2 separate regions of the Homo sapiens genome follow, and region 2 is reported to be linked to region 1. The links are microRNA targets in miRTarBase. Many come from high-throughput screens and were not tested one by one. Region 1 holds a microRNA gene; the other region holds the end of a gene's coding sequence.

Region 1 (4,000 bases):
CAGACTTTATTTCTCTTTTCCCATCCCCCTTATTTTAGGTACGTACCCGGTTCCCGCCAGAACCCAATGGAATCCTGCATATTGGACATGCCAAAGCCATCAATTTCAACTTTGGCTATGCCAAGGTAAGCATGTGTCTAGGGACCTGGCAAGCAAGATGACCACTTGCTGTTCCCATGAGTGGATACCATATCCCTGCCTTGCTGTCTGCTCCCAATAATGTACCCAGGTGGGCAGAGGCCATGGAAAGGAACCACATGTGTGACAGATACCTAGGAATCTATTGAGCTTATTGGAATAAATAGCTCCCTCCCTCTGAGGAGTCAGTGAGTTCAAATTTGGGGGAGTTGCCAGTGCAGTCCCTAGGCTTAGAAAGATGCTAGGTTAGATACAGGAAGGTGAGAGAAGCTCTTGAAGACATTTTTAATTCTGACATGAGTCCGGGTTGGGTGGCTCACGCCTGTAATCTCAACACTTCGGGAGGCTAAAGTGGGTGGATCACTTGAGGTCAGGAGTTCGAAACCAATCTGGCCAACATGGTGAAACCCCATCTCTACTAAAAATACAAAAGTTAGCTGGCCATGGTGGCACACGCTTGTAGTTTCAGCTACTGGGAAGCTGAGGCAGGAGAAACCCAGGAGGTGGAGGCTGCAGTGAGCCAAGATGGTGCAAGATAATCAAGACTCCATCTCAAAAAAAAAGAAAATTCTGACATGAGAGTGCTCTGTGAATATCCTAGTTTGATAAACAGGATTGTGGGGCTGATGGATGATGTGGGAGTTCACAGATGGTGCAACTTTCCTAGGCCAACAATGGCATCTGTTTTCTGCGTTTTGATGACACCAACCCTGAGAAGGAGGAAGCAAAGTTCTTCACGGCCATCTGTGACATGGTAGCCTGGCTAGGTATGGACTAGGCAAAGCCTAGAAGGGCTGGTGGTTAGTGGGCCTCTCCTTGGGCCATGGCCTGCCCACTGGGTGTTTGTGGCTGGCTGCTCATACTTTGTTTCATTTTGCCCCAGGCTACACACCTTACAAAGTCACATATGCGTCTGACTATTTTGACCAGCTATATGCGTGGGCTGTGGAGCTCATCCGCAGGTAAGGCCAGGGCCATGACGTAGAGCCAGGCAGACTGACTAGGTCACAGCCATGCTGGGCACTCACACCGCTTCCCCACAGGGGTCTGGCTTATGTGTGCCACCAGCGAGGAGAGGAGCTCAAAGGCCATAATACTCTGCCTTCACCCTGGAGAGACCGTCCCATGGAGGAGTCACTGCTGCTCTTTGAGGTGGGGTCCTAGAGGAGCATCTGGGTTTGGGTGGGCCAAGGTGCTGAGAATGAGATGCTCCTGTGCTTAGAGACAGCCTGAGTCCTTGTTCCCCTCAGGCAATGCGCAAGGGCAAGTTTTCAGAGGGCGAGGCCACACTACGGATGAAGCTGGTGATGGAGGATGGCAAGATGGACCCTGTAGCCTATCGAGTCAAGTATACACCACACCACCGCACAGGGGACAAATGGTGGGTGTAGAATGGGGTGGGGTGGTGGGGCTGCCGAGCAGGGCGATGGGCCATGGGGTAGGGCAGAGTAGGGCTGGATGGTAGGGCCCACTGCCTATGCCCCACAGGTGCATCTATCCCACCTACGACTACACACACTGCCTCTGTGACTCCATCGAGCACATCACTCACTCACTCTGCACCAAGGAATTCCAGGCCCGGTGAGGGAGCTGGGTCCATGGGGTGGTAGGGCCAGTGGAATTCCAGCAGCCCTTCCTGTGGTCTCTGCCTGGTTCCAGAGCTGGCCAGTGCTAACCCTACTCTCCCACCCCAGACGCTCTTCCTACTTCTGGCTTTGCAATGCACTGGACGTCTATTGCCCTGTGCAGTGGGAGTATGGCCGCCTCAACCTGCACTATGCTGTTGTCTCTAAGAGGAAGATCCTCCAGCTTGTAGCAACTGGTGCTGTGCGGTAGGTGCGGCTGTTTGGCTTATGAAAGGTTAATGGCATATGCTCCCAAAGGCCTTCTCACCACCTTCTTATCCACAGGGACTGGGATGACCCACGGCTCTTTACACTCACGGCCCTGCGACGGCGGGGCTTCCCACCTGAGGCCATCAACAACTTCTGTGCCCGGGTATAGCCCAGCAGGTTGGGTAGATACATTGGGGGTTGAGTGTGGCAGTTTGTGATTGTAGCTGTGACTGATGCTGAACTTTCCTGCCAGGTGGGAGTGACTGTGGCACAAACCACAATGGAGCCACATCTTCTAGAAGCCTGTGTGCGTGATGTGCTGAATGACACAGCCCCACGAGCCATGGCTGTGCTGGAGTCACTACGGGTCATCATCACCAACTTTCCTGCTGCCAAGGTGGGCCTGCCTCAACATGTGTGTCACATGTGTGTGTGTAGCTGGGGGTACACTTGGCTCTGGGCATGGGGGTCCTAATGCTGAGTATGACTCATACCTGTCTCCTGTCTCCTGCTATAGTCCTTGGACATCCAGGTGCCCAACTTCCCAGCTGATGAGACCAAAGGCTTCCATCAGGTTCCCTTTGCACCCATTGTCTTCATTGAGAGGACTGACTTCAAGGAGGTAAATTGTGGGGGTGGAGGGTCCCGTTTGCTGCTGAGTCTGGTACTGGGAACCTTTCATCTCCTCATCTCTGTCAGTCCATCTACTTCCTGCTTCAGATGAACCAATCTTTGCCAGACACGGGGGTAGGGAAGCTTCCCCACTTGTTTGACCCTTGCAGCCTCATGTGTCTACCCCACTTCCTATCTCTAGGAGCCAGAGCCAGGATTTAAGCGCCTGGCTTGGGGCCAGCCTGTGGGCCTGAGGCATACAGGCTACGTCATTGAGCTGCAGCATGTTGTCAAGGTGAGAGCCAGCTGCAGCCTTCCTACTGCAGTGCCTGCTGGGGCCAAGATGTGAGTATAGCCTGCAGTCCTGGTTGTGGTTCCCGGGTCTAATTGCTGCTCCCCTCCCCCCACTTCCAGGGCCCCAGTGGTTGTGTAGAGAGTCTGGAGGTGACCTGCAGACGGGCAGATGCTGGAGAGAAGCCAAAGGCCTTTATTCACTGGGTGTCACAGCCTTTGATGTGTGAGGTTCGCCTCTATGAGCGACTGTGAGTGAACAGAGCTGGGGTGGGGGCAGGTACAAGATGCACATTGCCTGCTATGGCTGCCCAGCTGGGGGTATGACCTTCACTTTGGCTGCAGATTCCAGCACAAGAACCCTGAAGATCCTACTGAGGTGCCTGGTGGATTTTTAAGTGACCTGAACCTGGTAGGTTCATGAGGTTTGGGGTGAGGGAGGTAGGCCTCCCTGGTTGGATGGTTGCCTGAGTTCCCTGCCTGCAGGCATCACTACACGTGGTGGATGCAGCATTAGTGGACTGCTCTGTGGCCCTGGCAAAACCCTTCGACAAGTTCCAGTTTGAGCGTCTTGGATATTTCTCCGTGGATCCAGACAGCCATCAGGGAAAGGTGCTTGACTTTACTCACCTGCCCTCATCTGCAGCAGTGACAGTGGCTGCCGTTCATTGTGCCAAGTGCTCTGCATACATTCCCTTAGTTAATCCTCACCACCTGAGGGAGTTGGTATTCATATTCTACTAGTGAGGAAACTGGCACTGAGGATAACTCCAGGCACAAAATTTTGTATGAAGGCTGCCTTTTTTTTTGAGACAGTCTTGCACTGTCGCCCGGGGCTGGAGTGCAATGGCACCATCTCGGCTCACTGCAACCTCTGCCTCCCAGGTTCAAGTGATTCTCCTGCCTCAGCCTCCCGAGTAGCTGGGATTACAGGCGCCTGCCACCACACCCGGCTAATTTTTTGTATTTTTAGTAGAGATGGGGTTTCACCATGTTGGCCAGGATGGTCTCGAATTCCTGACTTCATGATCTGCCCGCCTCGGCCTCCCAAAGTGCTGGGATCACAGTCATGAGCCACTGCACCCGACCTCTTTTTTTTTTTTAATTATTATTTTTTGAGGCAG
Region 2 (4,000 bases), not on the chromosome of region 1:
TGGCCATGTATTGATGGTTTTAACCCAAACTATTCATATTCTGGAATTCAAAAAGATAACCTTTCACCTAGCTTTAGTGAAGAAATGTTACGGTATGCCTCCTATTTAAAAGTGATTGGTATTTTTCTTTTTACATCATAATGTCTGGGATAGGAGAGACGAAGCTAGAGTAACAATTACATTCAAAACTGCAGTGACTCAACATGGAACTTCTTTCTTGCTCATGTCACCATCAAGTGCAGTCAGGAGGCTCTCCTGGTGGCTTTCCCCAGCAGTGCCTCCTGTGCCCTGGCTGCTTCCATTTTGCAAATTCTTCGTTCATAGCTGAATGGAAAGACAAGAGAGTGGTCAATCGTGACAGTTTTACTGCCAGGCCTGGAAGTTGCATATATCACTTGTCTCCACATCTCACTGGCCAGAACTCAGTCACAAGGCCCCAAACTAATTGCATGAGAGACTTGGAAACATAGCACAGCACTAAGAATCTCTGCTACAACTCTGTACAGTTGCCCAAGCAAGTTGGTGAAAGAAGGCAGACTATAAAACCTAGGATGCTGCCTGTCTATTCAAACAGCTGTACAAGGATTTAAGATGTAATTTGATCAAAGAACGTGGCACCGTCATTTTTAAAAAAGGTTTTAATTCCATATAGTACAGTACTTCAATTTTTTTGTTTGTTTGTTTGTTTGTTTGTTTGAGACAGAATCTACTCTGTCACCCAGGCTGGAAGGCAGTGGTGTGATCTCGGCTCACTGCAACCTCCACCCTCCCTCCTGGGTTCAATAATTCTTGTGCCTCAGCCTCTTGAGTAGCTGGGATTACAGGTGTGTGTCACCACGCCTGGGCAATTTTTGTATTTTTAGTAGAGATGGGGTTTTGCCATGTTGGCCAGGCTGGTCTCGAACTCCTGACCTCAGGTGATCTGCCCACCTCGGCTGCCCAAAGTATTTCAAATTTTTGAAAAGTTTTGTGAATCAAATTATCTTCAAGTATGCAAAAACCATGTCTCCACAAACAGTCTTCAATTGCTGACAAATTTTGGGGTGATAAGGTGGTGGCATATTTAATTAAGTACAATTAAGATGTCTTTAATTATAAAGGTTTCAGTTAAATATCTTTTGGAATTATAAAGAATTAGGCTAGGCGTGGTGGCTCACGCCTGTAATCCCACCACTTTGGGAGACCGAGGCAGGCAAATCATTTGAGGTCAGGAGTTCAAGACCAGCCTGGCTAACATAGTGAAACTCCATCTCTACTAAAAATACAAAAATTAGCCGGGCATGGTGGCACACGCCTGTAGTCCCAGCTACTCGGGAGGCTGAGGCAGGAGAATCGCTTGAACCTGGGAGATGAAGGTTGTGGTGAGCTGAGATCATGCCACTGCACTCCAGCTTGGGCAACACAGTGAGACTCCGTCTCAAAAAAAAAAAAAAAAAAAAAGAATTAAACTATACCTTTAATATATGAAGAAAATGATAGTTTGGCATCATTTATAGTAAATGTGTTCATAAACATTCTAAATATTCCAAACACGTACATACAGAAGAACATAATCTTAAGACAATGATTTTTATTACCTTTAGTCTACCACATTTGTCACTATAAATATACTTATTGAAAAAAAACCATACTATTTAAATAAGAATTCAGTTCATGAAAGTTTACAAAATACAACCAATGTACTCTGACTTGTGGTTATATCTTAACTATCTCAACTGTACTTTTCTGGTATGGCCAGACCTTTTGCAAATATTACCATGGTATTTTAATTTTATGATATAAAACAGTAGCAATTTATTAAGTTTTCCATTATAAAAATTAATATGGCAATTCTCAAAATACTGAAAAAACTGTTTTATGAAAGCAGTACCCACATCACTGCAACGTATTTCCTTTCTCTTAGAAAACATCTTCAAAAGGCACATTTTAATTACTAGTGTTTATATCTAAAGATAGTAGTTTGAGTTTTGAATTTCCAGTCAATTTTCCATTATCTCAAAATTGAGCTAATGGAGGGTTGGAAGAGGTAGGAGAACGCAGGTTTCCAATGAACTCCCTCAGGGCAGCAGAATCCTCATTCATCTCGTCCATGAAGACCAAAAGGAAGATATAAGGGAAAAAGGAATGGCAGATCTGTTTTGCATCCTAATTTAACCTTCTACACAAAATACTTCATTAAAAGCAAATAAACAAACACAAGATAGTAAGCTTAGAAAACAAAAGGCCTAGACCACAAATTACCCAGTTAAGCCCAAGTGGTGACATTGGTTTTAAGCCTCAAGAAAATGAAACTTCTGCTTCTGTAAAATCACATCTTCATCAATTGAATTTAAATCACTTAGTGCATTAACAATGTTACAAATTCCAATAATGTCAGACATATGGATGATATTCAAAATAAAGTACAAAAATACATTTCAAAATCAAATATAAATGACTTTATGGTTATCTGCCATGCTCCCCTTTAATTTGGCCTGATAGTCTACATTTGACTGTAATTATAATAACATCTGTAATTTCAAGTACAATAGTACAATCATAATAATTTTGAAGAACGTATGACCTAGGACCCCAAAATGCAATCCAATATACAATTTGGAGTATGGTTTACTTTTTAGTGAAGTTTAATACTAATTGAAGTACTAAATTGAACAAGGCCAGTACTCTGAAGTACTAATCTCAAGTATTTGATCCCATGTAAGAAACAGAAGGGAATTTTTAAGGCAATTTTGGTATTCCAAAATATTGGGGATCTACCTTAATTTTCTATTATTCCCCTCAAGTCTCAATTGAATATTTCCATTTTTTAAAAAAAGGGGAAATTTCTTAGGTTTTTTCCTCACTACAACAAAGTAATTCACCAAAAATATTCTCAAGTACAAAAACCAAAATGGTCCTCTATTACTTAGCCAAGATATAATTTTCTGGTCCCTAATAATGGTCACTTTAGGAGTACTTATTCAAATTCTAAAATAGCAGCTTTTGAAATTAAGGCAACATTGCTTTATTCTTACCTGTTTTTCTATTAGCTAACTATTTTATTAAAGTTCGTAAGAGCAATTTCAGACGTAGGCATCCTCAAAGGCCTTTTGTAATGTAAGAAGAATTAGCATGAACATTCTTCTCAATATTAAAAGTTATTGTATTCTACTTGGAATTCTAGAGTAATTACAGTCATTCCAGCATGTGTAAAATTACCTTTTAAACTAACAACAACATAAAATACAAATTTTCTACAAAAATACAATATAGGAGATATAGCACTTCTTCCCTGAAATAGAAATTTAATATTTGGACAAAAAACTGTAAACTTTTGGTTACATTCAAAATACAACCTTTTAAAGACTTAAATTGAGGTTTTAGCAACTGGAGCTCCTAACAGCAGATTTATATTACTATGATGTTTTAAAAACATGATAATTCTAAACAGTTTGTTTCTCTTACTCTGACATTTACTACCAGGAGGAAAAAAATGGCTTCCTGCAATTGACAGTCTGGGTAAAGGAATTGCTCAGGTGGACAATCCGACCCTGACTTCCACCTTGACTGCGTTCCACAATCACACAAGGTATCTGTACTAGCTGGAAAGGACTCTTCCCGTCTCTCAATGCCTGAGTAAGGTTTAAGATCTGTGGGAAGAAGAGAGATTTTTACCAATTTAAAAAGATAAAAAGCTTCACTTCACTGACATTTTTTAAACCATTTATTCATTATAATTTTTATTTCATCCATTTATGAGCAACAGAGACTGTGAAGATAAGTACCTGTTATAAATATGTATTATATGAATGTATGTTTACACACACACGCGCACACACACACGCGCACACACACACACACACAATTAGCATTAAATAACTTTTGCCAGATGGTAAGTTTAAAATATTCTAGAATATCCTGCCTATGTCCAGGAGCAATGGAATCAAAGAACGGTAAGTGAAGAGGTCTACATACATATTCAATTTAACATAAAAACTCAACAAATACTGGTTTAAACAGT

The links. Region 1 holds the annotated microRNA hsa-miR-6890-3p (CCACUGCCUAUGCCCCACAG, at 1,607-1,626, shown strand). A microRNA usually pairs through its seed, bases 2 to 8, with sites in the 3' UTR of a target mRNA and lowers its output. Matches are read on the target gene's strand: a 7mer-m8 pairs with bases 2 to 8, a 7mer-A1 pairs with bases 2 to 7 and ends in A, and an 8mer does both.
Region 2: miRTarBase lists PI4K2B as a target of hsa-miR-6890-3p. Seed matches in the 3' UTR shown: 7mer-A1 at 1,876-1,882.

Annotation. Positions count from the first base shown.
Region 1 is chr3:49,097,480-49,101,479 of GRCh38, reverse strand. It overlaps MIR6890 (microRNA 6890), which reads left to right and starts at 1,566; the gene lies at 1,566-1,626. It overlaps QARS1 (glutaminyl-tRNA synthetase 1), which reads left to right. Exons shown (of 24, transcript NM_005051.3): 10 at 39-125; 11 at 806-905; 12 at 1,022-1,100; 13 at 1,182-1,290; 14 at 1,389-1,519; 15 at 1,627-1,719; 16 at 1,833-1,970; 17 at 2,049-2,136; 18 at 2,227-2,370; 19 at 2,491-2,595; 20 at 2,788-2,880; 21 at 3,000-3,127; 22 at 3,222-3,288; 23 at 3,363-3,488. RefSeq lists an enhancer at 626-1,126.
Region 2 is chr4:25,276,643-25,280,642 of GRCh38, reverse strand. PI4K2B (phosphatidylinositol 4-kinase type 2 beta) reads right to left here. Exons shown (of 10, transcript NM_018323.4): 10 at 1,439-3,629. The coding sequence ends at 3,456. Among named protein-coding and RNA genes, the nearest start is that of ZCCHC4, 34 kb to the left of the region's middle.